Linked DNA regions of Homo sapiens. The protein of the gene in region 1 binds, or shares a complex with, the protein of each later gene. Each region holds a gene or a part of one and is shown on either strand. Other genes may lie near its edges. A codon is read from its position in the direction of its gene.

Evidence for each region.
Region 2: the proteins of SYMPK (region 1) and SSU72 are in contact, whole or in part, in a crystal structure (PDB 4H3K), measured with the Homo sapiens proteins. Residues at the interface, in NP_004810.2 of Homo sapiens: Val123 (codon at 4,799), Lys127 (codon at 4,811), Leu131 (codon at 4,823), Gln135 (codon at 4,835), Asp175 (codon at 5,703), Asn176 (codon at 5,706), Asp177 (codon at 5,709), Gly178 (codon at 5,712), Thr181 (codon at 5,721), His182 (codon at 5,724), Lys185 (codon at 5,733), Glu188 (codon at 5,742), Pro204 (codon at 5,790), Arg205 (codon at 5,793), Arg206 (codon at 5,796), Gln207 (codon at 5,799), Ser250, Ile251, Thr254, Thr255, Asn262, Ala290, Ser292, Gln293, Ser295, Ser296, Lys299, Asn300, Leu303, His304; in NP_054907.1 of Homo sapiens: Glu113 (codon at 13,045), Tyr116 (codon at 13,054), Asp117 (codon at 13,057), Val120 (codon at 13,066), Asn124 (codon at 13,953), Glu127 (codon at 13,962), Gln128 (codon at 13,965), Glu129 (codon at 13,968), Thr130 (codon at 13,971), Cys131 (codon at 13,974), Gln132 (codon at 13,977), Pro133 (codon at 13,980), His135 (codon at 13,986), Asp167, Glu169, Asn170, Asp173, Gln177, Glu180, Thr186, Phe187, Leu188, His189, Thr190, Val191, Phe193.

Annotation. Positions count from the first base shown.
Region 1 is NC_000019.10:45,838,060-45,853,607, reverse strand, and holds part of SYMPK (symplekin), read left to right. Parts: intron 1-1,072; coding exon 1,073-1,126; intron 1,127-1,222; coding exon 1,223-1,296; intron 1,297-4,731; coding exon 4,732-4,858; intron 4,859-5,606; coding exon 5,607-5,856; intron 5,857-9,407; coding exon 9,408-9,578; intron 9,579-11,118; coding exon 11,119-11,358; intron 11,359-14,992; coding exon 14,993-15,147; intron 15,148-15,548. UniProt on the Homo sapiens protein: Scaffold protein that functions as a component of a multimolecular complex involved in histone mRNA 3'-end processing. Specific component of the tight junction (TJ) plaque, but might not be an exclusively junctional component. May have a house-keeping rule.
Region 2 is NC_000001.11:1,542,387-1,557,934, reverse strand, and holds part of SSU72 (RNA polymerase II subunit A C-terminal domain phosphatase SSU72), read left to right. Parts: intron 1-12,932; coding exon 12,933-13,072; intron 13,073-13,947; coding exon 13,948-14,066; intron 14,067-15,548. UniProt on the Homo sapiens protein: Protein phosphatase that catalyzes the dephosphorylation of the C-terminal domain of RNA polymerase II. Plays a role in RNA processing and termination. Plays a role in pre-mRNA polyadenylation via its interaction with SYMPK.

The DNA.
Region 1 (15,548 bases):
GAGTCTTGCTCTGTTGCCCAGGCTGGAGTGCCATGGCACGATCCTGGCTCTCACTGCAACTCCTGCCTCAGCCTCTTGAGTAGCTGAGATTACAGGCACCTGCCACCATGCCTGGCTAATTTTTGTATTTTTAGTAGAGACGCGTTTCACCATGTTGACCAGGCTGGTCTCAAACTCGTGAGCTCAAGTGGTCCACCCTCCTTGGCCCCCGCAAACTGCTGGGATTACAGGCACGAGCCACCGTGCCCAGCCAAGAGAGGGAGAGCATGTCAAGCTGAGGGCACAGAAGTGTGTGCAAAGGCAGAAGACGACATGGGACACTTGGGCTGGGCATGGTTCAGAGCAGGAGGCAGTTGGAGTTCAGAGACTGGCAGGGTTAGCATTCCTGTGTGAGAACCCGTTCGGCTCCTTCATCAGCCTGTAGCCTTGTGGAGTAGCCCCACCTCCGAGGTGGAGTGGATGCACCTGGTGCCTCCCCCATGGGTGGTCATGAGGCCGTTTAGCAATAGTAGCTTGAGTTGTAGCAGCCAGGTCCTGTGCCAGCTCTTTGCTTATTGGAGGATGTCCATGGGAAGGGCTTACTCCAAAGAGCCTGGCAGGCACAAGGGCTTCAGGAATTGGGTTCTCACTGTGAAGATGTTTGCTGAATCATGGCAATGTGAAGTAGGGAGCAGAAGCAGAAGGAGAGTGGGGAGAACTGATGGACAGGTGAATGGAGGCCAAACCTCAGGAAGGCCTGAGCCTTGGGGCACTTTCCTCTTTTTTTCAGCCCCCTCCTGTGTCATGTCCTCACTATCTACCAGGACCTGTGCCTTGTAGGATCTCATTGTAGCCTCCTAACATCCCTTTTGAGTTGATGTTTAAGAGTCTCATTTTATAGAAGAGCAAACTGAGGTTCAGAGACCATGCCCAGAGCATAGCACCCTTGGTAGGGAGAAGCAGAGCCAGGCATTGAAATGAGTGTATCTGCTGCCTAGCCCTCTGCTGTCTTCCCCTCTACTCTCCTGTCTGCATTGATTGGCCCCTCGTTTTATATGGGTATTCCTCCTCCCCACCCCCAATCTCCTTCCAGGTCCAGGAGCTGATCATCAACAAAGACCCCACACTACTGGACAACTTCCTGGATGTGAGTGACTGACAGAAGAGAAAGGGGTGTGGTGTAGGGGAAAGGGGATGTGGATCCTTGTGTAGCCCTGATCCACTTTCTCTCTAACATTGGCAGGAGATCATCGCATTCCAAGCAGACAAGTCAATCGAAGTGCGAAAATTTGTCATCGGCTTCATCGAGGAGGCATGGTATGGGGCGAGGCACGGAGCCCCGGGAGCATTCTCACTGGTGGCAGCCTTCAGCTCGTGGCCTGGCCTGGAGGCCACCACTGAGAGGCCTGCCCTCTGCTTCCCAGACCCTTTCTCTCTCTCATACACACTGATTCCCCAGCAAATACTTAATAAGATGGAAACCCTGGGGTCATCTGTGATTCCTCTGCTTCTTCCACACTTCACATCTACATTATCACTAAGGACTGTGGGCTCCACTTTGAGAATATCTGTAGCATCTGACCGTTTGTCAATCACTTCCTCTGCCACTATGCAGGCCCAAGCCACCCTTTCCTCCTACCTGATGACTTCAGTGGTCTCTCTCTGGCTCCCTTCTTTTTCTTTTTAGTTAAATTGAAATTCATATAACAAAATTAGCTTTTTTTTTTAATCTTTTGTTTGTTTGTTTGTTTTGAGACGGAGTCTCGCTCAACTGTTGTCCAGGCTTGAGTGCAGTGGCGCAATCTCGGCTCACTGCAACCTCCGACTTCCGGGTTCAAGCTATTCTCCTGCCTCAGCCTCCCAAGTAGCTGGGATTACAGGCATGCGCCACCACATCCGGCTTATTTTTGTATTTTTAGTAGAGAAGGGGTTTTGCAATGTTGGCCAGGCTGGTCTCAAACTCCTGACCTCAGGTGATCTGCCCGCCTTGGCCTCCCAAAGTGTTGGGATTACAGGTGTGAGTCACTGTGCCTGGCCTTTTTTTTTTTTTTGAGACTGAGTTTTGCTCTGTTGTCCAGGCTGGAGTACAGTGGCGCAATCTTGGCTCATTACAACCTCCACCTCCCAGGCTCAAGAGATTCTTGTGCCTCAGCCTCCTTGAATAGCTGGGATTACAGGTGCGTGCCACCATGCCTGGCTAATTTTTGTATTTTTAGTAGAGATGGGGTTTCTGCCATGTTGGCCAGGCCAGTCTTGAACTCCTGACCTCAAGTGATTGGCCCACCTTGGCCTCCCAAAGTGCGGGGATTACAGGCATGAGCCACGACGCCCAGCAAAAATCAGCTATTTTAAAGTGAACAAGTGAGTGGCATTTAGCACGTTCACAATCTCGTTCCAGGGCATTTCATCCCCCAAAGAGGAATCACCGCACTCATTTCCCGCTTCCACTCTTGCACTCAGCAGCCAGAGTGACGCTGTTAAATGTAAATCAGTCTTGGCACACCCCTGCTCTCAGACCCCAGCTGGCTCATCAGCTTACTTAGGTGGAAACCCAAACTCTCACTTCGGCTTCATCTCACTTCTGATCCTCTCTGTCTCCCCTGCTCCTCAGAAGTCACAGTTGGATTTCGCAGCCTGTCTGCTTGCTGTTCCTGCTAGGGGCCCTCGTCCCCAGGTTGCCACCTGGCTCTCCCCTCCCTTCCCTCAGGTCTCTTCCTCAGAAATTCCTTCCTGCCCGCTCCCATGCAGCCCCATGTCTCAGGCACCCCACCTTCACTGTTCTTTACAGTGTTCCTCACTCATTGAAATAACCTTGATTCTTCCCGCAAAATATCAGCTCTGTGAGGACGGGGCTTGACTTTTTCTGTCTTGCTGGCCACTTTGTCCCCAGTACCTGCCTGGAGCAGTGTTGTCACCTAGTAGGGGCTGACTACGTATTTGTTGCACACGTGAATGAGTTGAACATAACAGTCACCACATGGAACACGTACTGTGCCCTGCGCTGTGTCAGGTCCTTTCCCGTGTTATCTCCGTAATTATGGCAGCCTCGATGGATACTGTGGTTATCCTCTTTTTACAGAAAGGGAAACAGGCTCAGAATGGTCAAGTGACTTGTTCAAGCTGGTCACTTGCTCATTTGTTTATTAAAGCTTTACTGGATGCTTTGTGACTGGGAGGAAGTAGACTAGCTACTGTGTATTAAATATTTGTTTGTAAGGCACTGTATTAAATGCTTGAGCAGCTTCATTATTCGTAATACTATGGATCAGTTGTTTGACCCTTTAACTGAAGAGAAAACAGTCTCAGAGAGGTGAAGTGAATTTTCTTAAGGTCACACAGCCAGAATGTGGCAAGGCTGGGATTTTATTTATTTATTATTTTTTTGAGATGGAATCTCACTCTGTCGGCCAGACTGGGGTGCAGTGGTGCAATCTCGGCTGACTACAACCTCTGCCTCCTGAGTCAAGTGATTGTCCTCCCTCAGCCCCCCCGAGTATCTGGGATTACAGGTGCCTGCCACCACACCCAGCTAATTTTGTTTTCTGTTGTTGTTTTTTTTTGTTTTTGTTTTTGTTTTTGTTTTGAGATGGAGTTTCGCTCTTGTTGCCCAGGCTGGAGTGCAATGGTGCGATCTCGGCTAACTGCAACCTCCACCACACAGGTTCAAGTGATTCTCCTGCCTCAGCCTCCCAAGTAGCTGGAGTTACAGGTGCCCGCCACCATGCCCGGCCAATTTTGTATTTTTAGTAGAGATGGGGTTTCACCACGTTGGTCAAGCTGGTCTCAAACTCCTGACCTCAGGTGACCCACCTGCCTCAGCCTCCCAAAGTGCTGGGATTACAGGCGTGAGCCACTGCGCCTGGCCAAGGCTGGGATTTTAACTCATGTCTGCAATGCCAGAACCCAAATATCCTATCTCCCCATTTACTGGGAGAATTTGTGGTAAATTTTCTGAATTTGTAAAAAGTCCATTCAGCAAATACATACCATGTGACTGCTGTCGTACCAGGCATCCATGTTAGGCTGTAGTATAGCAGTGAGCAAAAACGTATTATTCCTGCCTTCATGTAGCTGACAGCTAAGTTTCATATTTTTTGACTGATTTAATTAATATTTCAGATTGTAATGTATGCTGTGAAAATTCTGTGCTGAGCTCCTATTTATTCATTGAACATTTGTTGGAGGCCCTTCATTTTTTTCTTCAATGAAAATGACCCTGCTGGGGTTATTGCCAAGCTAGGAAAGGGTCCCTACTTTTTGAGCCCTCAGACTGAGGCAAGCAAAACTAGTGATTACAGAAAACAAAGTGCTTTAAAGTAGCAATGGCTGGTGTTTACCGAATGCTTTTTGGTGTTTACTGAATGCTTTCTGCATGTCAGGCACTCTTCTAAGCACTTTACAAGTATTGTTGCAATTTTCCCAAAAAATTGCATAAACAATTGGATAGATACTATTATTCTAAATGAGGTGAAGTCGCTTGTCCAAATTCACACAGTTGTCTGCCCCTACTGTCCCTTATGTGAACAGCAGGGCCCTGAGAGAGCAAAGGAGTTGGTGTTACAGGACCAGTCTAGATAGAGGGTTCAGGGGCGGCTCAGTCTGGAGGCACCAAGCACTGTTCCCAGCTTCTGGATGTGCCATTCCGGTCCCCTGAGACAGGTCCCTGATTTCCCTTCCCTCCTGGACCTCAGGCTCCTCCTACTTGCTCTAAGACCACACCTTGACCTCGCCCCTTTTTTCTCCATCCCTCAGCAAGCGAGACATTGAGTTGCTGCTGAAACTCATTGCAAACCTCAACATGCTCTTGAGGGACGAGAATGTGAACGTGGTGAAGAAGGCTATCCTCACCATGACCCAGCTCTACAAGGTGGCCCTGCAGGTGAGAGCGCCCTCCCCACCCAGGGCCATCCTGCCTGATATGTCTCGTTGACAAACTAATATGTTGGGGTTCAAAACCAGCATCCGAGCATACTCTTTATGGGCAAGATGTGCCACTGGTCTGTGGGAACAGATAACATGGAGAGCTAACGTTGTCTCCTAGGTCAGGAAGTTGCACTTAACCTTCATTCCTTCCATTGACCATCCGTTTATTCACTCAACAGACATTCCCTGAGTATGTCCTCTGTGCTTAGCCCTGGGCTAGGTGATGCTGGGGACACAGCAGTGACCAAGACAGCTTACTGCCTTCACAGTGCTCATAACCCAAGGAGGGAGGTAGACCTTAATTAATGAATCACATAAATATTGATTATGGAGTGTGATAGGAAAAGAACACTCTATGGTGTGATGTACATTAGCATTAATAAAACGAATGAATCCATTTAATCACCACCACCTTGTGAAGTCAGCACTGTTAGTCCTTTACCCTGAAGATGTGTGCCTTCATCACACTGAGTGGTCACTCTCTGCATCCCCATGAGGGCAGGGCGAGGCCTGGCCACTACTCAGTCCTGTCTCCAGCATCACCGAGCACTGGGCTGGGGCAGAGTTGGAACTCAGTAACTGTTAACCAAATGAATGTATTCATCATTCATGGTTCTCTGGGTATTGGCAGAGGGTGTTGGTGATTGATGCGTTGTCTTCACCTCTTTGTGTGTCTCTTCCATTCCTTCCTGGCCTGCTGGCAGTGGATGGTAAAGTCACGGGTCATTAGCGAGCTACAGGAGGCCTGCTGGGACATGGTATCTGCCATGGCGGGGGACATCATCCTGCTATTGGACTCTGACAATGACGGCATCCGCACCCACGCCATCAAGTTTGTGGAGGGCCTCATTGTCACCCTGTCACCCCGCATGGCTGACTCAGAGATACCCCGACGCCAGGAGCATGATATCAGCCTGGACCGCATCCCTCGTGACCACCCCTACATCCAGTACAGTGAGTACTGCCTTCAGCTGCCACCCCTGACAGCCCTGCACCAGTTTCCTCTCCTTCACGCCCCTCCCTCTCTCCCCCTTGTCTTTTTTGGTTTTAAATTTCTGGAACAGTGTGTGCAGTAGTTAAGATCCCTGGTGCTAGGTTCAGATCCCAGCTGCACTGCTTACTCATCATGAACTTGGGCAAGTTACCTGTCTCTGTACTTCATTTTCTTTTTTGTAAATTGGAGACGATAACATAGTACCACTCTCACAGGTTTGTAGTGAAGTTCCATGAGTGTGAGCCAGTCGATGCTAGCTAGTTTTATGGTTTTCTTTTTTTTTTTTTTGAGATGGAGTCTTCCTCTGTCGCCCAGGCTGGAGTGCAATGGCACAATCTCAGCTCACTGCAACCTCCGCCTTCCGGGTTCAAGAGATTCTTCTGCCTCAGCCTCCAAAGTAGCTGGGGCTACAGGCTCCCGCCACCATACCTGGCCAATTTTTTTAAAAATTATTTTTAGTAGAAGCAGGGTTTCACCATATTGGCCAAGCTGGTATCGAACTCCTGACCTTGTGATCCGCCCGCCTTGGCCTCCCAAAGTGCTGGGATTACGGGCTTGAGCCACCGCGCCGGGCAGTTTTACAGTTTTCTTAACTGCAAATTATAAAAGTAGGACATAGGCCAGGTGTGGTGGCTCATGCTTATAGTCCCAGCATTTTGAGAGGCCAAGGCAGGCAGATCACTTGGGGTCAGGAGTTCGAGACCACCCTGGCCAACATGGTGAAACCCCTTATCTACTGAAAATACAAAAATTAGCCGGGCATGGTGGCGGGCACCTGTAATCCCAGCTACTTGGGAGGCTGAGGCACGAGAATCGCTTGAACCCAGGAGGCAGAGGTTGCAGTGAGCTGAGACTGTGCCACTGCACTCCAGCCTGGGTGACAGAATGAGACTGTCTCAAAAAAAAAAAAAGTACTATATATACACTTGGTGTCAAGCAATATGGGTGAATCAAAAGGAATAATGTCCCCTCCCTCAGTCCTGCTTTCCAGAGATAAACACTGTTAAGAGTATTATGTTTCCTTTCAGATCTTTCCTGTGCACATGTAGGTATTTGTATGTGTATATGCATAGTGTCTGCATTTGTTTGCTTTTCTGTTTGCAAAAATGAGGCCATGCTTTGTGTTTTCATCTCAGAGACATTATAGTAGCTTGTGTCTGACACACAGCCTATTTTCCCTTGTCTCTGAGCCTGATTCCTCATTGGTAAATTGGGGATCGTTATTATGGCATCTAATTTAGGATGTAGGTATGAGCATTTGGTGTATTAATATGGCTGGAATAGTAAACATTCCATAAATATTAACTATTCTTATGTATTGTTTGACAGCCTTTTTGACTTAATAGTATCAGTGACGTCCTTCCCTGTGAGAATCATATAGTTGCTATACCATATTCCATAGTATAGTTACATTACATTCTATTAAGCAATGCTCTGTTGATGGTCATTTAGATTTTTAATTCACTTTTATTTTTTGAGACGGAGTCTCGCTCTTTCACCCAGGCTGGAGTGCAGTAGCGCTATCTCGGCTCACTGCATGCTCCGCCTCCCGTGTTCACGCCATTCTCCTGCCTCAGCCTCCCGAGTAGCTGGGACCACAGGTGCCCGCCACCACGCCCGGCTAATTTTTTGTATTTTTAGTAGAGACAGGGTTTCACTGTGTTAGCCAGGATGGTCTTGATCTCCTGACCTCGTGATCTGCCCACCTCGGCCTCCCAAAGTGCTGGGATTACAGGCGTGAGCCACCGCGCCCGGCCTAATTCACTATTTTAAATAATGTGGCGTTCAAGTCAAAACTACAATGAAATGTCTCACCCCAGTTAAAGTGACTTTTATCAAAAAGACAACAAATGCTGGCGAGGATGTGGAGAAAGGGAAACACTTGTACACTGTTGGTGAGAATGTCACTTACTACAGCCTAAAAATTGTTTGGAGTTTTGAGGTTCCTCAAAAAATTAAAAATTGAGCTACCATATGATTCAGCAATCCCACTGCTGGATATGTAACCGAAATAAAGGAAATCACTGTATCAAAAAGATAACCCGCACTTCCATATTCATTGCAGCACTAGTCAGAATAGCCAAGACTTCGGAGCAAACTAAGTATTCATCAACAGAGTAATAGATAAAGAAAATGTGGTACTCATACACAATTGAATACTATTCAGCCATAAAAAAGAAGGAGATCCTGTCATTTGCAACAACATGGATGGAAGTGGAAGTCATTAAGTGAAATAAGCCAGGCACCGAAAGACAACTTTGCATGTTCTCACTTATTTGTGAGAGCTAGAAATGAAAACAATTGAACTCATGGAGACAGACGGTAGAATGATGGTTACCAGAGGCTGAAAAGGGTAATGGGCGGTTGGGGAGGAAGTGGGAATGGTTAATGGGTACAAAAAAATAGTTAGAACAAATAAGATCTAGTATTTGATAGCCAAGCATGGTGGCATGTGCCTGTGGTCTCAGCAGCTCAGGAGGCTGAGTTGAGAGGATCACCTGAGTCTGGGTGGTGGAGGTTGCAGTGAGCCGAGATCACGCCACTGCTTTCCACTCTGGGTGACAGAGTGAGACCCCATCTCAGGGAAAAAAAAAAAGATCCAGTATTTGATAGCACAGCAGGGTAACTATACTAAAAAATAATCATACATTTTAAAATAATTGAAATAGTATAATTGGATTGTGTGTAACAAAACGGATAAATGCTTGTGATGGAGACCCCATTTACCCTGATGGTGATAATTATGCATTGCATGCCTGTATCAAAATCTCATGTACCCCATAATTATTTACACCTACTATATACCCATTAAAATTTTTTAAGTTAAAAACATATATATGGCATTCGTTATGTTTCTGTATAGGAAAGGTCTGGAAAGATATCCACCAAAGTTTTAAGCATTAATTTTGGGGACTGTATTGAGGGGAGTGGTGTCACAAGGGACTTTGAGTTGTGTGTATATACACATGTATTCTAGTCTTTCACTATTGCAAGCCCATGCTTTGAACATCTTTATAACTAAATTTTTTTTTTTTTTAATATGGAGTCCAACTCTGTCACCCAGGCTGGAGTGCAGTGGCGCGATCTCGGCTCACTGCAACCTCTGCCTCCTGGGTTCAAGCGATTCTCCTGCCTCAGCCTCCCAAGTAGCTGGGATTACAGGCACAGGCCTTCACACCTGGGCTAATTTCTTGTATTTTTAGTAGAGACGGGGTTTTACCATGTTGGCCAGGCTGGTCTTGAACTCCTGACCTCAAGTGATCTGCCTGCCTTGGCCTCCCAAAGTGCTGGGATTACAGGCATGAGCCACTGCGTCTAGCCCCTTATAACTAAATTTTTATACTCATTAATAGTCTCATAGAACTAATCAACCACCACATTTTCTGTTTTTCCCGCCATTCATAGACATCTAGGTACCAGGATCTGTCCTTCCTTTTAGTCCCAAAAGCTGCTGTCTCCAGAGGCCTGGGAAAACGGATCCCACTGACTGGTTCTCCTCTCTGTCTCTTAGACGTGCTATGGGAAGAGGGCAAGGCAGCCTTGGAGCAGCTGCTTAAGTTCATGGTGCACCCTGCCATCTCCTCCATCAACCTGACCACAGCGCTGGGCTCCCTTGCCAATATCGCCCGCCAGAGACCCATGTTCATGTCTGAGGTGATCCAGGCCTATGAAACTCTGCATGGTAGGTCATTGTCCTCCCCCCTCCCCCTGCCTTCTCTTCACTGGCCAGTCTGCTCTTTCTTTTTTTTTTTTTTTTTTTTTTTTTTTTGAGACAGAGTCTCGCTCTGTCACCAGGCTGGAGTGCAGTGGTGCAATCTTGGCTCACTGCAACCTCTGCCTCCCCAGTTCAAGTGATTCTCCTGCCTCAGCCTCCCGAGTAGCTGGGATTACAGGACACACCACCACACCCAGCTAATTTGTTTACTTTTAGTAGAGACGGGGTTTCACCGTGTTGGCCAGGATGATCTCTATCTCTTGACCTTGTGATTCGCCTGCCTCGGCCTCCTAAAGTGCTGGGATTACAGGTGTGAGCCACTGCACCCGGCCTCAGCCTGCTCATTCTTAAAGAAATGTAGCTCCGTGGTGGACCCCGAGCGCTAGTCATCCATCTGGCAGGCCTGAGATTCTCTACATTAGACAGGAATCTTTTGGCATGTGACAGAAACTTGATTCAGGACTGGCTTTAATATTGAGGTATGTGGGGGTGAAATGACATGATGTCTGTGAAATACTTTCAAATATTCCAGTCCTCTCCCCCCACCAAAAGGGAGGATAGATGTTCCAAGATTAGCGAAATGTTGATGGGTACACAGAGACTCATACCATTTTCTCTGTTTTGTGAAACGAAAACCGAGAAGTCTGGGGTTGGGGTATGAATGCGTACAGGTCGTGGATCTGCATTTCTCCATCTCTCAGCTCTTTGTTTCTCCATTTTAGTTTCACTCTCTGGCCCTTTCCTTAGGGTAGCAAAGATGGCCCCCCATAGTTCATGGCTCCCATTCCGTTCACTTAGCAACACCATGGGAAAGAGAGTGTCTCCTTCCCAACCATTCCAGCAGAAGTCCAAGGGCTGACGGTCATTGTTTCTGATTGGCTGAGCAGAGATTATGAGCCAGTCTCTGAGCCAATTACAGTGGCCAAGGGAATGTGGTATTCTCACTGGCCCCAGGTCTCATGCCCACTCGGAAGGAGACTGGAGAAGGGGGGTCTCCCTTAACGGAGAGTGGGTTGTGTTGTTGGCTGAGGAAGGGGCAGTGGATGCTAGGCAGGCAGAATTACAGGCATCCTTTTTCACTGTGGAACAGGGGAGGCTCACTTATCAGGGTGACCATTAGAAAGTCATCCTGGCGTCAGGGAGACTAGCAGTGAGCTGTTGCAGCAGTTCAGTTGGGGGTTTCTGGAGGCAAAAGTGGTGATTATAACCCTCCCCAAGCGAAGCATATGTGAATTTCCAGACCAGAGATGGAGGAGGACGAAATTGTATGTATTTACTAAAAGAGAGGGTGAGTTTTTCTCTTTAAGATTGACTGATACTGATGGAGACCCCCAGGGTTTGAAGCATCAGCTTGTAAGGCGGAAAGCCACACGTTAGATCTGAGGGTGAAGGAACTTTTCTAGTAGATGCCTGCAAGACCACTGCCCAAGTTTGGGGTTGAGAATTAAGACTGGCAGCATGCCATGAGATCTTCCACAAGACACAGCTCCTGCCACTTTCCTCACAGCCAACCTGCCCCCGACGCTGGCCAAATCGCAGGTGAGCAGTGTGCGTAAGAATCTGAAGCTGCACCTGTTGAGTGTGCTGAAGCACCCGGCTTCCTTGGAGTTCCAGGCCCAGATCACCACCCTGCTGGTGGACCTGGGCACACCTCAGGCCGAGATCGCCCGCAACATGCCGAGCAGCAAGGACACCCGCAAGCGGCCCCGCGATGACTCGGACTCCACACTCAAGAAGATGAAGCTGGGTGAGAGGGGCTGGTGGGGTGGGGCAGGCAGACCATGCTGAAATGTTTCATTATTTACCTTAAACTATGCTGAATTTGTATTTACTAAGATTATATTATAGATTATGTTATGTGGGCCAGGCACAGTGGCTCACACCTGTATTCCCAGCACTTTGGGAAGCTGAGGCGGGCAGATCACTTGAGGCCGGGGTTCAAGACCAACCTAGGCAACATGGCAAAACCCTGTCTCTAATTTTAAAAAATTATAAAATAATTATAAAAATAAATTACAGTATTTAATATGATATATAAATTACAATAGAATTATCAAAATATACGTTTAATAAATTATGCATTATTTAAATTTTACAGAAAGGAATAAAATGAAAATAGTATCCCTCTTATCCCTCTCCCAAGAAGTAACCACTCCCCAGGTGTGAACACTTCTTTATGTTTTCCTCCAGAAGTGCTTTATGTAGAGTGTGGAGCTCTTCTTTCATTCCTTTGTTTTAGTTATCAGATAATTTTCTTTCTGAAGTAATTTTCTAGTGGTTGTATTATTTATCAATAGTGTCAACTATGGCTTTTCTTAACTTTAAGATTTTTTTCTTAAATCACACTTTTTTTCTAGAGCATTTACGAAAGATTTATTTTTTCATTTTAAAAAATAAGGAATTAGGCTGGGCGCAGTGGCTCACGCCTGTAATCCCAGCACTTTGGGAGGCCAAGGCATGTGAATCACCTGAGGTTAGGAGTTTGACACCAGCCTGGCCAACATGGAAAAACCCCGTCTCTACTAATAATACAAAAATTAGCTGGGTGTAGTGGTGCATGCCTGTAATCCCAGATACTCTGGAGGCTGAGGCAGGAGAATCACTTGAACCCAGGAGGCAGAAGTTGCAGTAAGCCGAGATCATGCCATTGCACTCCAGTCTGGGTGACAAGAGTGAAACTCTGTCTCAAAAAAAAAAAAGGTGGGGGGGGAATTGCCAGGCACAGTGGCTCATGCCTGTAATCCCAGCATTTTGGAAGGCCAAGTTGAGGGGATCACCTGAGGTCAGGAGTTCGAAATTAGCCTGGCTAACATGGTGAAACCCTGTCTCTACTAAAAATACAAAAATTAGCCAGGCGTGGTGGTGCACACCTGTAGTTGCTGCTACTTGGGAGGCTGAGGCAGAAGAATTGCTTGAACTGGGGGCAGTGGTTGCAGTGAGCCAAGATTGCACCATTGCACTCCATCCTGGGTGACAGAGCAAGACTCCGTCTCAAAAAAAAAAAAGGAATTTATCTAAGGAGTGAGGTAGGGATCTTACTATGTTTTTTCATAATTAAGTATACTAAGCAGAGTATTCTGTACCTTGTTTTCATTTAGTTTCATTTACTTTCATCTTGGAGTTCTTTATAGAAATCTACCTCATCCTTTTTTTTTTGAGACAGTCTTGCTCTGTTGCCCAGATTGGAGTGCAGTGGTGTAATCTGGGCTCACTGCAGCCTCTGTCTCCCGGGTTCAAGCAATTCTCATACCTCTGCTTCCTGAGTAACTGGAATTACAGGCGAATGCCACCACACCGGGCTAATTTTTGTATTTGTTTGTTTTTTTTTTTTTAAAGATGGAGTTTCACTCTTGTTGCCCAGGCTGGAGTGCAGTGGTGGGATCTTGGCTCACTACAAGCTCTGCCTCCCAGATTCAGGCAATTCTCCTGCCTCAGCCTCCCAAGTAGCTGGGATTACAGGCATGTGCCACCATGCCCAGCTAATTTTGTCTTTTTAGTAGAGACGGGGCTTCACCATGTTGGTCAGGCTGGTCTTGAACTCCTGACCTCAAGTGATCTGCCTGCCTTCGCCTCCTAAAGTGTTGAGATTACAGGCGTGAGCCACTGCACCTGGCCAGGGTTTGTATATTTAAAGTTATATTTTACCCACCAAATTTGTCTTTTTTTTTTTTTTTTTTTTTTTTTGAGACAGTCTCGCTCTGTCACCCAGGCTGGAGTACAGTGGCCTGATCTTGGCTCACTGCAACCTCCGCCTCCCAGGTTTAAGAGATTCTCCCTCCTCAGCCTCCCGAGTAGCTGGGGCTACTGGTGCGCGCCATCATATCTGACCAATTTTTTTGCATTTTTAGTAGAGCCAGGGTTTCACCATGTTGGCCAGGCTGGTCTCAAACTCCTGACCTCAGGTAATCCACCCGCCTCAGGTGATCCCCTGGTTGCCTCAGTACATGGGATCAGGAGGCACATGGTGTCCCATTGTTGGAGATATTAACTTTTGAACGCTTGGTTAACACAGTTTCAACCAGCTTTCTCTAGTGTCAAGTGCCATTTTTATCTTTGTCAGTAATAAGCTGGGGGAGATATTTGAAACTATGTAAAATACATGTTTCTCTTTAAACGTTCACCCAGTGGTTTTTTTGTGTTTTTTTGTTTTGTTTTGTTTTGTTTTGAGACAGAGTCTCGCTCTGTTGCCCAGGCTGGAGTGCAGTGGTGCAATCTTGGCTCACTGCAAGCTCCGCCTCCTGGGTTCACACCATTCTCCTGCCTCAGCCTCCCGAGTAGCTGGGACTACAGGTGCCCGCCATCTGCCCGGCTAATTTTTTGTATTTTTTTTAGTAGAGACGGGGTTTCACCGTGTTAGCCAGTATGGTCTCGATCTCCTGACCTCATGATCCCAAAGTGCTGGGATTACAGGTGTGAGCCACTGCGCCCAGCCTCACCCAGTGGTTTTAACATCCAGTGATGATTGTTGCCTGAGTCTATTATTCTATACTGGCTCCAAAGAGATTTTCCTTCTACATTTATCAGTTGACATTCTGCTGTAAGGAAGAACTTTCTCTTCTTCTTCCCACTTACTATCAGGAATTTGTTTTGAGCATTTCACTTACTTACTAGCATGACAAGATGTTCTAGACTCCTCTTGTACTGTCCTTGCCCCAGCCCTGGAATCAGTCTTTCTTTTTAAGGAACCCTGGTTTCCTTTAAGTGGGGAATAGTTTCAGAAATCAAGGTCTGAGCCCAGGTGTGCCCTTAGGTACCGAGTGTACATTCTTGATAGCCATTACCAAAGTGCCTTCTAAAAAACTGCACCAGGCTGGGCGTGGTGGCTCATGCCTGTAATCCTAGCACTTTGGGAGGCTGAGACAGGTGGATCACCTGAGGTCAGAAATTTGAGACCAGCCTGGCCAACATGGTGAAACCCCATCTCTACTAAAAATACAAAAAAATTAGCTGGGCCTGGTGGCGCATGCCTATAATCCCAGTTACTTGGGAGGCTGAGGCAGGAGAATCACTTGAACCTGGGAGGCGGAGGTTACAATGAGCCGAAATCATGCCATTGTACTGCAGCCTCGGTGACGAGCAAGACTGTCTCAAAAAATAGTAATAATAATAATCTCTTCTTAGAGCTTATGATAAGCTGCAGGGGTGTGGCTTACTCCCATTTCCCAGATCAGGAGATCTGAGGTTCAGAACGAGTCAGGTAGTTGCCCAGGGTCATAAAGTGGTTTGGCACCAGAGGCAGAGCTGCAGCCTGGATCTTCATCCGCTGTTTGCTCCTGTTTGCTGAGGCTGACTAGAGGCAGGGACCACCCGGGCACCCCGGAAGGATGGAGGGCCTGCAGCTCTCTCTATAGCCAGCATCTTGTTCTTTTCCCTCATCCCAGAGCCCAACCTGGGGGAGGACGATGAGGACAAAGACTTGGAGCCAGGCCCGTCGGGGACCTCGAAGGCCTCAGCGCAGATCTCCGGCCAGTCAGACACGGACATCACAGCTGAGTTCCTGCAGCCTCTGCTGACGCCTGATAATGTGGCTAATCTGGTGAGGATGGGTGGGGAGCGTTTTCCCCCTGGGCAGGAAGGAAGGATCTCCTCGGTCTTTCACCTGCCTCCACTTCACACCATCCACCTCCTCCAGAGTACCCTCCTAATTAATAAAGAAAAGGGGTTTAATTGGCTTACAGTTCTGCAGGCTGTATAGGAAGCGTGGTGCTGGCATCTGCTTAGCTTCTGGGGAAACCTCAGGAAGCTTCCAATCATAGTGAAAGGTGAAGGGGGAGCAGGCATCTCGTGTGGCAGAGCAGGAGCAGGAGAAAGGGAGTGTTGGGGAGCAGGGAGGTGCCACACACTTTTAAATGACCAGATCTTGTGACAACTCGCTATCCTGAAGACAGCACCAAGCCATGAGGGATCTGCCCCCATGATCCAAACACCCCCGACCAG
Region 2 (15,548 bases), on another chromosome or scaffold:
CTGGCCTGTGTTTTAAATTGCACATTTGTTCATGTCCGTCCTCTGAATTCATTGTCTTTTAGGTTAACTTCTGTGTGTGGCCACTTCCCTGTGGACATTTCCTTGTCTCAGAGTAAAATGTGGTAGACTTCTTTTTTGAGATGGAGTCTCAGTCTGTCACCCCTGCTGGAGTGCAATGGCGTGATCTCGGCTCACTGCAATCTTTGCCTCCCGGGTTCAAGCGATTCTCCTGCCTCAGCATCCTGAGTAGCTGGGATTACAGGTGCGGCGTACCACCACGCCTGGCTAATTTTGGTATTTTTAGTAGAGATGGGGTTTCACCACGTTGGCCAGACATGTCTCAAAACACCTGACCTCCGGTGAACCACCTGTTTTGGCCTTCCAAAGTTTTGAGATTACAGGTGTGAGCCGCTGTGTCCGGCCCCATATATATATATATGCTAATTCAGATGAATAGTATAGTTCCCAAAAAGGAAATGCTGATATGAAGCTTTATTTATTTATTTATTTATTTACTTTTTTGAGACAGAGTCTTGTTCTGTCGCCCAGGCTGGAGTGCAGTGGTGCAATCTCGGCTCACTGCAACCTCCGCCTCCCAGGTTCAAACGATTCTCCTGCCTCAGCCTCCTGAGTAGCTGGGATTATAGGCATGCACTGCCACACCCGGCTAATTTTTGTATTTTTAGTAGAGACAGGATTTCACTATGTTGGCCAAGCTGGTCTTGAACTGCTGACCTCAAGTGATTCACCCGCCTCGGCCACCCAAAGTCCTGGGATTACAGGTGTGAGCCACTGCGTCCCGCCCAGCAGCTGTGTTTTAAAATAGTTTTGGGAAGGTATTTGTCAAACAAATGAATGTGTTCCTAAGCCAGACGCCGATTCCCAGAGAAACTCTGATCGTGGGTTTTAGAAAATCATTCATGCCTAAAATGTAAATTACGGCCTTAAGATATTTCAGGTAAGGCCAGAGATACTGGCCTGCTCTTCTCATCTGAGATGACAGAGGTAGAACGGAGCTGACTGGCTGAGGTAGTTGCTGGTGGTCATTTGAGGGTCTGGACAGAATGCAGCTGTGCTGACTGTGCCTTCGTCTTCAAGAGGTAGCCCAGGGTCAGGGCCCACAAGCCTGTGAGTTTTCACCTAGTCTGCAGCAGGTGAGATGCTTTTGCAAAGTAGTTTCACGGTGCCTGCAGTCGCAAGGCCATGGTGGACCCCCCCAGAGCTGGCCTGAGCCTTGTGTGGCTCTGTGTTGAGGCCACGGTTACAGTTGGGTGCCCAGCAGCTCCAGAGATGGCCATGAGACCTTTTCGAGGGGTTCCTGAGTTCTGTTTGTGCAGCCTCTGTGCTTTGCCAAAAAAGCATTCGCTATCAAAATGAAATTTTTTTTTTTTTGAGACAAGAGTTTTGCTCTTTTTGCCCAGGCTGGAGTGCAATGGCGTGGTCTTGGCTCACTGCAAGCTCCACTTCCTGGGTTCAAGCGATTCTCCTGCCTCAGCCCCCGCAAGTAGCTGGGATTACGGGCGCCCCCCACCACGTCCGGCTAATTTTTTGTATTTTTAGTAGACATGGGTTTCACCTTGTTCAAGTGATTCTCCTGCCTCAGCTTCCCAAGTAGCTGGGACTACAGGCACGCCGCCACCACGCCTGGCTAATTCTTTGTATTTTTAATAGAGATGGAGTTTCACCGTGTTAGCCAGGATGGTCTCCATCTCCTGACCTTGTGATCCACCCGCCTTGGCCTCCCAAAGTGCTGGGATTATAGGCGTGAGCCACCGTGCCTGGCCAAACTTTGTGTATTTTTTGTAGAGATGGGGTTTTGCCATGTTGGCCAGGCTGGTCTCAAACTCCTGGCCTCAAGTGATCCACCCGCATTGGCCTCCCATAGTGCTGGGATTACAGGAGTGAGCCACCATGCCCAGCCTCAAAGTGAATTTATTTTTTCGAGACGGTCTCGCTCTGACTTTGATGCTGGAGTTCAGTGGTAACATCATAGCTCCCTGTAGCCTTATGTCCCTGGGCTCAATCCTCCCACCTCAGCCTCCTGAGTAGCTGGGACTCCAGCCATGAGCCACCCCACCTGGCCTGATTTTTTTATTTTTAGTAGAAATGAGGTTTCGCCCTGTTGCCCAGGCTGGTCTTGGATTCCTGAACTCAAGCAGTCTGCCTGCCTTGGCCTCCCAGAGTGCTGGGATTACAGGTGTCAGCCACTGTGCCCGGCCCAGATGTATTTCTTGATACGTTGACATGGAAGTGGTAGCTGGCAAGCTTGTGGCATAGTGTGGTGAGTGGATCCCAGTCCATCCCGGGAGCCCAGAGCATCGTGCTGTGCACAGCCGTGTCGGTGTCACCTGCTCTTCTCACCGTGCCCTTCTGAGTACGGAGCTGCCGTCCACGCTTGTGGCACACTCGGCTGTTCTTGTCACCCACATGCACGACACTCCCTCCAGACATGCCTGCCACAGCCGCCACCTGGCCCCTGCAGCACTGGTTCCTCCTTTCTTGGCCGAGGTGCCACTGCCCAGGCTGTTGGCATCTGGGTCAGAGCCCTGGGCAGTCACTGTGCTGAGCTGCAGCTCTGTCCTCGCTGGAGCGAGGCTCCCAGGAGCTCCACCAGCGCCGCCGAGGCTGTCTCATCCCCGCCATGCACCAGGAGCACAGATACCGGAGCCTCCTGTGTCGGTGCTTTGAGTTTTGCCATGGAAACGGATTGACCCAGCTCTAACCTGACCTTTGAGACCTCTGACCTCCCCTCTGATGTGGGGAGTCTTCTGTGTGTGTGGCAGGGGCATGGCTGTCAGGCTCTGCAGTGTTCCTGTGTGTCCCGTCACTCAGTTACCGGGACAATCTGGCCAATAAGGTGATAGCTGGCCCCCCTCGTGGGTGTGTCTGTCAGGGCAGCAGCACTTAGCATGCTCTGGGATGAGTCATACGTGCAGGGAAGATGGTGTGGCCTTCCGGGGAAGGACCAAGGCTTCCACGGAGCATCAACACCTTCAGGAGACTTGACGTCAAGGAAGTCTCTGCTGCCAGCCACGGTTTGCAAAGGAGAGGCTGAGGGCCAGGAGCTGAGGTGGTCGGGGGTACGTGGGGCTGGCGCCGGCAGCAGGGAACCCAGGATGGTGCTGGGCTGCCCAGGGCTGTTGCTTTCGTGGCTCCAGTGCCTGTGGCCAGCGTGCTGCACCTGACATGGCTTTTTCCCAGGCCGTGGTGGGAGAGTGCGGTCCCTGGTGCCAGCCACACTGGCGTGGCAGTGCCTGTGGGTTCCCTTTCAAGTCCCTGGTGACTCATAGCAGGGTAGTGTGGTCCTGGCCTCTCGGTTCTCCTGTGGGATGGGCAGCTGCGCTCATTCTAACTCCCCGGGATGTTCTGGTCCCACTAAGGCCCCTAGGGAGTGAAAAGAGAAAACCTTGGTAAGGAAAACCGAGCTGTGTTTGGGGCGTTTCCTGGTATGTCCTGGCACCTTGGGGCCCTGGGTGGTTTATCCTGAGAGCAACCACATCAAATGGGTGTGGGTGGTCAGCGAGGGCTCGTGGGGACCCCCAAATGGGCCGGATCCGCCTCATGCTCAGCTTCGTGGGGACCCCCGAGTGGTCCGGATCCGCCTCATGCTCAGCTTCGTGGGGACCCCCGAGTGGTCCGGATCCGTCTCGTGCTCAGCTTCGTGGGGGCCCCCGAGTGGTCCGGGTCCGCCTCATGCTCAGCTTCGTGGGGACCCCTTAGTGGTCCGGATCCGCCTCGTGCTCAGCTTCGTGGGGACCCCTTAGTGGTCCGGATCCGCCTCGTGCTCAGCTTCACTTTTTGCTGATGGTGAATCTCACAACCGCTCCACTCCCTGGAGCTGCACTTCCTCCTCGTTTCTCTTTAGAGGCCCTGGCCACTGACACGTGGTCTCCGTGGCCACCTGACGTCCCCCGGACCTGCTGAGTTCTCACCACTGACGTAGTCTGGTGGTCCCCAGGAGGATCCCTGCTTGAGACAGTCCATAGTGACCACTGGCCTCCTCTGGATGAGGTCTTTATCCTCCGTTTTTTTCAGTAGACAGTTCAGCTGCATTGTCAAGAGAATGTCACACTGGTGACATCCTTCAGATGCGGCCTGCTCCAGTTCGTCTGTCAGCCTGGGTGCCTTTTTTTTTTTTTTTTTGAGACGGAGTCTCGCTCTGCCACCCAGGCTGGAGGTGCAGTGGCGTGGTCTCGGCTCACCGCAAGCTCTGCCTCCCGGGTTCACACCATTCTCCTGCCTTGGCCTCCCGAGTAGCTGGGACTACAGGCGCCTGCCACCATGCCCGGCTAATTTTTTTTTTTTTTTTTTTTTTGTATTTTTAGTAGAGACAGGGTTTCACCGTGTTAGCCAGGATGGTCTCGATCTCCTGACCTTATGATCTGCTGGCCTCAGCCTCCCAAAGTGCTGGGATTACAGGCATGAGCCGCTGCGCCTGGCCACGCCCACCTAGTTTTTTGTACTTTTACTAGAGACGGGTTTCACCATGTTAGCAAGGATGATCTCGATTTCCTAACCTCGTGATCTGCCTGCCTCAGCCTTAAAAGGTTGTATTCCGAAGCTGAATTTCCTGGCAAAACAACTACTGTATTATTATTTTTTTAAATAACTAAATAACTGGAATGTCCTGGGGTGGAGATAAGAAGTCCCTTATGTTCTGTCTGCTGAGGGGGCACAGAGGGGCCGAGCCGGAGACCCTTCTCGGCTGGCAGCAGTGCTGAGGGTGAGGCTGCGGTTACAGATCCAGGGTTTCTGTCCAAGTGAAGCCGGACACCATGGGGCCACAGTGCAGAGACCGGCTTTCCTCCAAGTGGAATGTTTCGGGTTTAGTCTGGTTTTGTGTTGCAGAATAATTCACAATTTAAGACCTTTTTCTTGAAAACTTTAAAAAGTAATTTTTTTTTTTTTTTTTTTTTGAGACAGTCTCATTCTGTCGCCCAGGCTGGAGTGCAATGGCGCAATCTCGGCTCACTGCAACCTCCGCCTCGTGGGTTCAATAGTTTCTCCTGCTTCAGCCTCCCAAGTAGCTGGGATTACAGGCATTAGCTACCATTTCTGGCTAATTTTTGTAGTTTTAGTAGAGATGGGGTTTTGCCATATTGGCCAGGCTGGTCTCAAACTCCTGACCTCAAGTGATCCACCCGCCTCGGCCTTCCAACGTGCAGGGATTACAGGAGTGAGGCACCGCGCCCGGCCAGTCCACCATTTTTGTTATCTGAGAGTCTACTAAGCCTCAGTCTGACTAGATAGTGTGTGGTGATGCCATCTTGCCGTCTGTTGGGTTTACTCCTCAGGCTGACTGAAAGTGTTCAGGAAGGAGACACCGTCCTGAGGGCCATGGAGAGCAGTCACTTGCAGGCAGATGGCCCTGCCCTGGAGCTCAGGCTCTGAGCTGGGGGCTCGGGAGGAATCGCCCTCTGGGCGTGGGGCACAGCTCAGGCACCAAGACCCTGGTAGAAGGTGCTGTCAGTCACACCGGATCATTTGTCAGGAGGCCCTAAAATCGAAGGGGGTCCCAGGCAGGTTCCTGCTCCCTGACCTTTGACCTCACTGCCAGCACCTCCCGGTCCCTAAGGAGGAGGCCGCACAGGGACGATCACAGAAACTGTGCAGAGCCACTTGTGTAAGTACCAGTTGTGTGGGGAGTGGTTACCTTTGAGAAAAATGGGACGGCCTAGTTCTCTGGTTTTCCCAGGGCCTCTGGAAGTGACCTCACCTCCCTGTGCAGGTGCCGTTGAGCAAGCAGAGGGCTTCGCGGAGGAAGCTGTGGCCCTGCGTCCACGCGGCCAGCGTGAGGATGGTCTGCCCTGGGGCAGCCGGCGCCCTCCAGAGCATCTGCTGCTGCACACGTGTAGCAGAGTGCCGGGTCGGAACGCTGGTCAGCCTCACACTCGGTTTCCAGGGGAGTTGCTGATACATTAGTGGAAGATGTGGGGGTGCCGGCTTGGGGATCCCCTGAATTGGAAGGTTCCTGATGAGTTTAGGGGCTGACTTTGCTGTGCTCTGTTGCATTATGGACAGGATCTGAGTCACTGGGCTGCCCACACCGGGCCATTGTTGGGAAAGGTAGTGGTGGCCCGGCGTGGCCCTGCCTGCATGGGGTGAGCACAGGCCTCGGGCCCCACCACCCTCCCTCAGGCCTTCGGGGCGATGTGACGTTGGCGTAAGGATGGGCAAAACGTTCAGGATGTCCCTGGACATGGGTGCTGTGTCCCACGTGGATTTGGGGCAGAGATAGGTTGGGCCGTTGGCGTCCGCGAATCGGGACCCTGGTCGAGAAAGGCTGGTGGGCAGGATGGGAGCTCGGGAAGCAGCGCCCAGTGCAGCAGCTGTCAGGCCTCCCCCTCCCTGACCAGTGGGGATGGGCTCTGGGAATCTGAGTGTACAGGTAGCATTTGGTGCAGCTGGCACACACACGTAGGTAGAATTTGATCGCAAGTGAAATTTACTTTGTACTTCTCAATTCATTTTTTGCTGATTGTAGCCCAACAAAAGCAGCTTGGGTGCTGTGATTTGGGGAGAAGCTGCCCAGCGTGCCTGCTCAGGGGCTCACCCTGCTGCTGTTCCCTTTGCAGCCTCTGGGGTCCTCCCCATGCCTGGCAGGCTGGAGAGCTGTGGGCCACACACTGAGTGTCTTTACTGTGGGGCTTATTTTTCTAGTTTTCATTACTGTTTTTTCATTCCTACAAATGGTGCTATTTATACCTCCCGCAGCCTCTGGGAGACGTGTGTGGCTTCTCCATGGCTGGGACTGCAGCCTTGTTTCTGCCTGCAGGGAGCAGTGTGTGTCCAGATCCAGTGTGTGCTTTAGGCTTTGCCTGGGGTGTGGACATTTAACCCACATGGAAGGTCCCCGTGCAGCTGGCCTGGGGAAGCAGCCAGGCCTGCTCTGCCCTGTAGAGGTTGTTGAAGGCCCGGGCAGCCTGGGGGCGCTGGCAGGACAGGAGCTTTCTGGGGGGTGGATGTGTCCACAGCAGAAACCTGGGCCCAACTCAGTCCAGCTTAAGAGGAGGTCCTAGACCACGAGATGCCCCAGGGTCTGTGCACCTCCCAGGCCCAGCAGGGAGGGAGGGGCGTGTGGTGGGTGATGGTTCAGTGGAGTGAGTGGTGGGTGCAGCCTTCCTGCTGATGAACCACCAGGCCTTCCGGCCGGCACCAGTCCATGGTCCCTGGCTCCGGCAGGCTTGTCCTCCCTGGTGTGGTGCTTTGCTAAACCTCCGCCCTCCCTCCATCTTCCTCCCACAACAGAACAGTGTTGAGGCTCTGCCAGGCGAGATCACTGCCTCGTCCTGACTCCCTGGGCCCGGGACCATCCCTGGCAGGCACTTGAGGGGGGCCAGCAGCCTGGGGCCCGGGGCTCAAGGCCCCGTGGGGTCTGGCGAGAGGCAAGGGCCCAGGCACTGATTCTCTGAGTGCTGGCAAAGGGCCTGTGGTGTCCGCTGGTGTCTGGGAATTGCTGGAGGGTCAAAAGCATTAGGCTTAGCCAGGAAAGTCATGGTTAGGGTTAAACTCATGTCTGCTGAAAATTGCCTGAATTAAAATTGAACAAATGTGCCTTAACTCGAAAGAAAAGAGCAGACATTCAGAATAACACGTTGCCAAGAACCCTGAAGGGTGGCCCCTCTGAGGCACCAGCTACCCCCAGCCGGGCTGGCGTGGAGGATGGCGGGGGTTGTCTGCTGGTTGGGTGGCATGTGGACTTGTCTTGGATGCCATGATTTATATACATATATATATATATACTTTTTTTTTTTTTTTTTTGAGACACTCTCGCTCTGTCTCAGGCTGGAGTGTAGTGATGTGATCTCGGCTCATGGCAATCTCCCCTCCCAGGTTCAAGTGATTCTTGTGCCTCTGCCTCCGGAGGAGGCTGGAATCACAGGTGTGCACCACCATGCCTGGCTAATTTTTGTATTTTTAGTAGAGAAGACGGGGTTTTGCCATCTTTTTTTTTTTTTTTTGAGACAGAGTCTCGCTCTTGTCACCCAGGCTGGAGTATAGAGGCGCAATCTCGGCTCACTGCAACCTCCACCTCCTGGGTTCAAGCTATTCTCCTGCCCCAGCCTCCTGAGCAGTGGGATTACAGGCACCCGCCACCATGCCCGGCTAATTTTTTATATTTTTAGTAAAGATGGGGTTTCACCATGTTAGCCAGGATGGTCTCGATCTCCTGACCTTGTGATCCACCCGCCTCGGCCTCCCAAAGTGCTGGGATTACAGGCGTGAGCCACTGCGCCCAGCCATAATTTTTGTACTTTAGTAGAGTCAGGGTTTTGCCATATTGGTCAGGCTGGTCTCGAACTCCTGACCTCAGATAAGCCATCCGCCTCGGCCTCCCAAAGTGGTGGGATTATAGGTGTGAGCCACCATGCCTGGCTGCAGCCTTTTTTTTTCTTTTTCTTTCTTTTTTTTTTTTGAGACAGAGTCTCGCTCTGTCCCCCAGGCTGGAGTGCGGTGGTGCGATCTTGCTCACTGCAAGCTCCGCCTCCGGGTTCACGCCATTCTCCCGCCTCAGCCTCCTGAGTAGCCGGGACTACAGGCGCCTGCCACCACGCCTGGCTAATTTTTTGTGTTTTTAGTAGAGACAGGGTTTCCCTGTGGTAGCCAGGATGGTCTCGATTTCCTGATCTTGTGATCCACCTGCCTCGGCCTCGCAAAGTTCTGGGATTACAGGCGTGAGCCACCGTGCCCGGCCCCAGGCTGGTAATTTTTTATTTTTTGTAGAGGCAGGGTTTCTTTGTTGCTCTGTGTGGACAGAAAGCTTAGTTTGTTTCTCTGATGGTTAGTCCCCCACAGAATTTTAACGTGATTCTGTGTTGATGACACTTTCTGTTGCATGAGACAATATTCCAGATCTCTCTGGGTCCCTCCTGGATTCAAGGCATCCTCCTGCCTCGGCCTCCCGAGTAGCTGGGACCACAGGTATGTGTCACAGCCCAAGGCCTCCAGCACAAGCCTTATTCTCCCATCCCCAGACTCAGGAGGCCATGCAGCCACACACCGGGGGAGGGTTCCAGACGTCACTGTGGGACGGGAGTGACACCAACAGGGCAGGGAGGGCCAGGACATTGGCTCATGCTGGCCGGTGGCCTCTCGGGATTGGCCACACGTGCTCAACCCATGGGAATCTCACTCAAGGGTCTGATGGGCCTGCTCCTCCTGTTTACGCCAAAGTCCAGAAGGCCTCCGGGGGCGAGTGGGAGGACGCAGAGTGGGTGAGCGGAGCTACCTTCCTCACCGCGGTCCATGTGGAAGCCAGGGCAGGGGAGGGGCCTGCCCACTGCACCCACCCCCAGCACCCCACCCCGTGGCTGCCACATCTCACCTCTGGACAATTTTCTTGGCCCATCCTTGGGAGTTTTTTTTTTTTTTTTTTTTTTGAGACAGAGTCTTGCTCCTGTCACCGAGGCCAGAGTGCAGTGGCATGATCTCAGCTCAGTGCAGCCTCCGCCTCCTGGCTTCAAGCAATTCTCCTGCCTCAGCCTCCAGAGTAGCTGGGACTAAGGCGCCTGCCACGACGCCTGGCTAATTTTTGTAATTTGGTATAGATGAGTTTCACCATATTGGCCAGGCTGGTCTCAAACTCCTGACCTTGTGATCCGCCTGTCTCAGCCTCCCAAAGTGCTGGGATTACAGGTGTGAGCCACCGCGCCCAGCTGGGAGTTTATTTCTTAGATGTGTGTTAACTTCAGCTGAGGCTCCTGTGTGCCTCTGTTTCATGGCCTTCGGGTGTTGGCCGCCCTCTACTGAACGTGGTCCCTGAGGCCGCAGGGACTGTGCAAAGCCGGATGTCCAGGCCCTGGGAGTCCAATGGGGGCAGTCGATTCTATGGATGGCACATCCTCTTTGCCTGCCCTGCCCTGGGCCCTCTCTTGGCCCACTTTTCTGGGTACGTTTCAGGCCCTCATGCCCAGTTGGGGCCCTAGCATGGGTCAGGCCCTCCGCCTGGTGTCGCCTTCTTGCCCGGGCTGAGTCTTTGGTTTCTTTCTTTGTGGGTTCAATGTCGAACGCTTTGCGTCAGTGGGACTTCTGCAGGACCTGGGCGGCGCAGGTGTCCGGAAGATGGGACAGGTTTCTGTTCCGATGGCGCCTCTCTCCCCTTCCTCCCGCCCGGCAGTACTTAGGTTCTTCCTTCAGAAAGGATTTCCCCATGACTTGAAGAGCAGGCTCTCGCACGCAGGCCCGAAACCTGCTCAGCCTCCCCGTGGCCCTGAGCCTGTCTATTGAAGGCCCCGCCTCACCCGCCAGCGGCTCCTGTCCTCTCGCCTTGCTCTGAGCCTTTGCCTCGTGGCACTCACTGGCACCGTGGTTTTGCTGCCGGAATTCAGGTGGGATCTTGCGTCCCTGTGAGCTCATGGCTTGGTCTGTGGTCCCTTTGGTCCTCCTCAGGTCCTCACAGCCTCTGGTGGGGCTTGCAGGTCTAGCCCTCTGGGCGGGGCCTCACCTCGCATCTCCTCGCCAGGAGATCCAGAAGGGTGGCTGCTCGCTCATCCTTGTGTAGCTGAGGAGGCTGCTGCTTTGTCCCTGAAGTAGACATTTCTCCTTAACTGAATGATTCTTAATTTATTGCCTCATCTACATAAATAGTTGAGAATGACGTAAAGGAGGAAAGGACTTAGAACTGTCCAGGCCTCAGGGAAGAGCTGGCCTTGAACGTCCATGAGCTCTGCCAGCCAGTGACACCAGTCCCATCCCCAGGAGCCCCCACGGCCTCACCCCCGGCTGTGTCTTGCTCAGGGATGTGCAGGGAGGGTGATCCCTGTGCCCACCATGAAGCTGCCACTGGACCCCTGCACCCTGACCCCGGTTCCTCTCCGTGAGCCGGTCCCTGCACCTGCCCCTCTGCATGTGGCTGCACACAACAAGGTCAGGCCGTCTTGAGCTCTTTTTTTTCTTTTCTTTTTGAGACGGTGTCTTGCTCTTGTTGCCCAGGCTGGAGTGCAGTGTCACGATCTCAGCTCACTGCAAGCTCCGCCTCCCAGGTTCAAGCTTCTCCTGCCTCAGCCTCCCGAGTAGCTGGGATTACAGGTGTGAGCCACCGCGCCCGGCCTTTTTTTTTTTTTTTTTTTTTTTTGTTGTTGTTGTTGTTTTCCAGAAGGAGTTTTACTCTGTCGCCCAGGCCGAAGTGCCGTGGTGTGATCTCGGCTCACTGCAACCTCCGCCGCCCGGGTTGAAGCAACTCTCGTGCCTCAGCCTCCTGAGTAGCTGTAGCTGAGATTACAGGTGTGTGCCGCCCCACCTGGCTAACTTTTGTATTTTTAGTAGAGACGGGGTTTCACCATCTTGGCCAGGCTGGTCTCAAACACCTGACCTCAGGTGATCCACCCGCCTCGGCCTCTCGATGTGCTGGGATGACAGGTGTGAGTCGCCACGCCCGGCCTCCTAGAATGCTGGGATGACAGGCGTGAGCCGCCGCACCCGGCCTCGAGCTCTTCTTTCCGCAGACTTTGATTCTCAGCGGCTGAAGGACTAAGTTCCCCAGAGATGGACCCGGGTGTCATAGCTGCTTCCAGGGGCCTCGGGGACACAGGCGGGACTCCAATGTGCAGGAGGAGACACACGTCAGGGGTGGGTGTGTGACTTCCACGCTGCTGACAGTGACCCAAGGATGCAGCTCAGGGTCAGATGCCGTTAGATCAACCACTTCAATGTATTATAAAACTATTATAAAAACTATTTTTGCTACCCAGGAAGGTAGCTGAGTTCACTTAGAATTCCTGTCAGCTAGGCTGTTTATCTGAAAGTGGTTACTTGTCCCTGACCATCTGGAATGGCTCAAATGAGCTCCTGCAGACCACAGAGCTCATCTTTGGGAACCCAGTCTCTCTTTTTGGGGAAGTGAGCCCCTTCCTTGGGAACCCCTGAGGCCAGGCATGGCCACTGTGGATGGTGGGAGGATGCCCCACCCTGAGGACCCCAGAGGCTCCTGTGGCCCCTTCCTGGGACTGCTGGGGCCGGTGTGTGTCAGCGTTCACCCCAAGGCCCCCTTTCAGCTGGGCTGGACGCCAAGTGCCTTCAGGCCTCATCCTGCCCTCCACCATCCCATAGTCAGTGAGGCTGTGGCATCTCCCTCCTCGACTGTCTTGCCCTCTTGGTTTTTGTATCAGCGTTTTCCAGGCTGATTGCTGCTGAACCTTCTGTTTTTTTTTCTTTTTCTTTTTGAGACAGTCTTGCTCTGTTGACCAGGCTGGAGTGCAGTGGCATGATCTTGGCTCACTGCAACCTCAGCCTCCCGATTAGCTGGGATTGCAGGCATGTGCCACTATGTCCGTCTAATTTTTGTATTTTTAGTAGAGACGGGGTTTTACCGTGTTAGCCAGGATGGTCTCGGTCTCCTGACCTCGTGATCCGCCCACCTCGGCCTCCGAAAGTGCTGGGATTACAGGCATAAGCCACTGCGCCCGGCCTGGAGCTTCCTTTCTTTGGGTTTTCCGATGTTCTTGACTCTGTTGTAGCTGAGCTAGACTGGGGACTGGGTTTCCGGGTTTGCTTTGTCTCTGCTGAAGGGCTGAGGTTTCAGAGCCAGCATGCACTGCACAGGGAGCAGAGGGAGGAAGAAGGATCCGACTGCGGAGACACAGTGACTGAGGCCAAGGGCAGCTTGGGCCGGGCCAGCAGTGAGGGGAGAGGTCTGGGTAGAAGGTGTCATGCTGGGCGGGGGCGGGGGGTGTCCTGCGGGCCTTGGGTCTTTTTGCCGAGTTGGGGGACAGCGAGGAGCAAGCACCTGCCATCGCCCACTTTGTTTTCTGTGGGACCTCCTAGGACAGTGAGGCCCCTGCCTCACCAGGGCATGGCCCACTCCGCTGTCCAGGCCTTCGTCCCGGCTGCCTCTGCTGTGGGGCAGGGAAGGGGCTGGGTGTCCAGGACACAGGCGCTTCCAGGCTTCATACACAGATGCCTTTTCTCTGACGTTCCTTAACTCCCATGTGTAGCTATACACAGAATGGGATTTTACATATGCTGGACAGAAATAAGAGAATCAAGCCCCGGCCAGAAAGATTCCAGAACTGCAAAGACCTGTTTGATCTGATCCTCACTTGCGAAGAGAGAGTGTATGACCAGGTGGTGGAAGGTGAGGAGGCGGCTGCGTGCTGGGCTGGGCTCCAGCAGCTCTCACAGGGTCTGGGGATGCCTGCAGGGCCCCACCATGACCAGTACAGCCCGTCTAGAGTGGCGGGGGCCGGGGAGCAGACCTGAGTGTGAAGCACCCTGGAAGGCAGGCAGGGCCGCTGGTCGCTGAACCACCCATGTGCTGGCTGCAGCCTCATGGGCTTCAAGGGGCCTCTTTTCTCCTTGGTGTTTTTTTGTTTTGTTTTTTGAGACAGAGTCGTGCTCTGTCGCCAGGCTGGAGTGCAGTGGTACAATCTAGGCTCACTGCAACCTCTGCCTCCCGGGTTCAAGTGATTCTCCTGCCTCAGCCTCCCGAGTAGCTGGGACTACAGGCGTGTGCCACCACACCCAGCTGATTTTTGTATTTTTAGTAGAGACGGGGTTTCACCATGTTGGCCAGGCTGGTCTTGAACTCCTGTCCTCAAGTGATCCGCCCGCCTCAGCCTCCCAAAGTGCTGGGATCACAGGCGAGAGCCACCGCGCCAGGCCCATTTTTCAAGCGGATGGACCCTGTGTGGAGCTGGCGGTGGAGCAGGGAGGGCTGGTCTTTAGTGACGGGGAAGGGTCGCAATGCCAGTCACGGTTCACCCCAGGACTGGCTGGTGGGTGGGGAGTCCCAGACCAGCTTGTGCTGAGTTGGAGATTTGCTCAGGTTTCCTCGAACCATCAGCCGCCTTCGGTTTGAGGCTCATTCATTGTGCTCCCCAAACTGCAGAGTCCAGAAACCACTGGGGCTGGGCTGGGCCTGCAGCCGGCAGAGCTGGGGACTCAGCCACATTGACTGCCTGTTCCCTGGTTTTGGAGCCTCTGACGTCTGTGTCACCTTGTCCCAATCAGATCTGAATTCCAGAGAACAGGAGACCTGCCAGCCTGTGCACGTGGTCAATGTGGACATCCAGGACAACCACGAGGAGGCCACCCTGGGGGCGTTTCTCATCTGTGAGCTCTGCCAGTGTGTAAGTACCCGGCTGGGCGCCGCGCTGGGCAGAGGTTGTGACAGAGGGGAGTGACCGAGGCCGTGACAGAGGGGAGTGGCCGAGGCCGTGACAGAGGGGGTGGCCGAGGCCGTGACAGAGGGGAGTGGCCGAGGCCGTGACAGGGGAGTGGCCGAGGCCGTGACAGTGGGGAGTGGCCGAGGCCGTGACAGTGGGGAGTGGCCGAGGCCGTGACAGAGGGGAGTGGCCGAGGCCGTGACAGTGGGGAGTGGCCGAGGCCGTGACAGAGGGGAGTGGCCGAGACCTGAGGCCGGCCCTGCTGCTTGGGGCAAGGTCTGCTCAGCTCGCCTGTGTCGGGGGCGCCTGCTGGTAGTTCAGTGAGTCACTCCACAGCTTTGGCACAGGAGGCCCCCCTGCAATGCCCTTTGCTCAGCTGAGAGACGCTGCACAGGGACCTCCCCAACACAGGCTTAGTCCCTCTCCCAGGACACGGCTCCAGGGAACGCCTGGTACCTTGTCTCTTCCCCGTGGCGGACACAGCCCCACCTCAGTGAGCAGAGCATGCAGCTCTCCGGGATGCGGTGCAGTCGGAGGTGTGCCCCACGTGAGCCTGGAGGCTGCCAAGGGCTCTGTGTCCGCCGTCCACCCCTGGACTTGGCCTTCTGCACACCTGCCTTCCCCAGTGGGCCCTGCATGTCTCCCTTGCACAGAGGGGCCGGGGCACCCCAAGGCTTCTGTAGCCACCCTGCTGCGGCGTGGAGGTGCTGGGCTGTGACGAAAGGACCTGCCTGAGGAGAGCCCCACGCACCGTCCCGCCTCTGCCTCTGCCTCTGCCTCTGTGATTTGATGAATGTCTGTGAAAGACAGAAAAACAGAACAGCTTCACCAAGAAAGAAGATGGTGTGTTTGGAAAGCCCGGGAGCCAGGCGGGCGGGCGCTGGGAGAAGCTGCTGTGTGGCCGCAGAGGCTCCTGCGCTCCGCCTGGCCCACCCAGCATGGCTTCTGGTCCCCACGTGCCTCACGGTCCAGTGTGGCTGCTGAAGCGCCAGGGACGGTCTTCATGATCGCCTGGCAGGAGAAAAGGTCATAAGAAAATGTCGTCCCAGAAGTTATTGCACGATTTCTGCTTGGGTCACGTTGGCCAGAGCTGAGTCACAGACAGGCCGCTCCTTGCTTAGAGGCACTGGGTGCTGGCCAAGGCTGGGGACCAGGGGACAGTGGAGATGGCGAGTAACGAGCTGCCGGTGCCAGGGCAGGTGTGCCTAGGAGCCGGGCCTGCTCACTCTGGGGCAGCGGCCCTCTGCCAGGGGCTCTGGTGGATGGAGGCCAGGATGCTCCGATGACCAGGCTGCCCCCGCTCGCTTGTTGGTGGTGTGGAAGCGCTGGCGGTGAGGGTTGGTCGGCCCCGCTGTGCATGTGTGGGTCTGAGCCCTGGCCGCCAGGTCTCCGTGCTGGGCCCCTCTCAGAATCCAGCTCCAGGCTCCTCCCAGCTCCTCCCAGCTT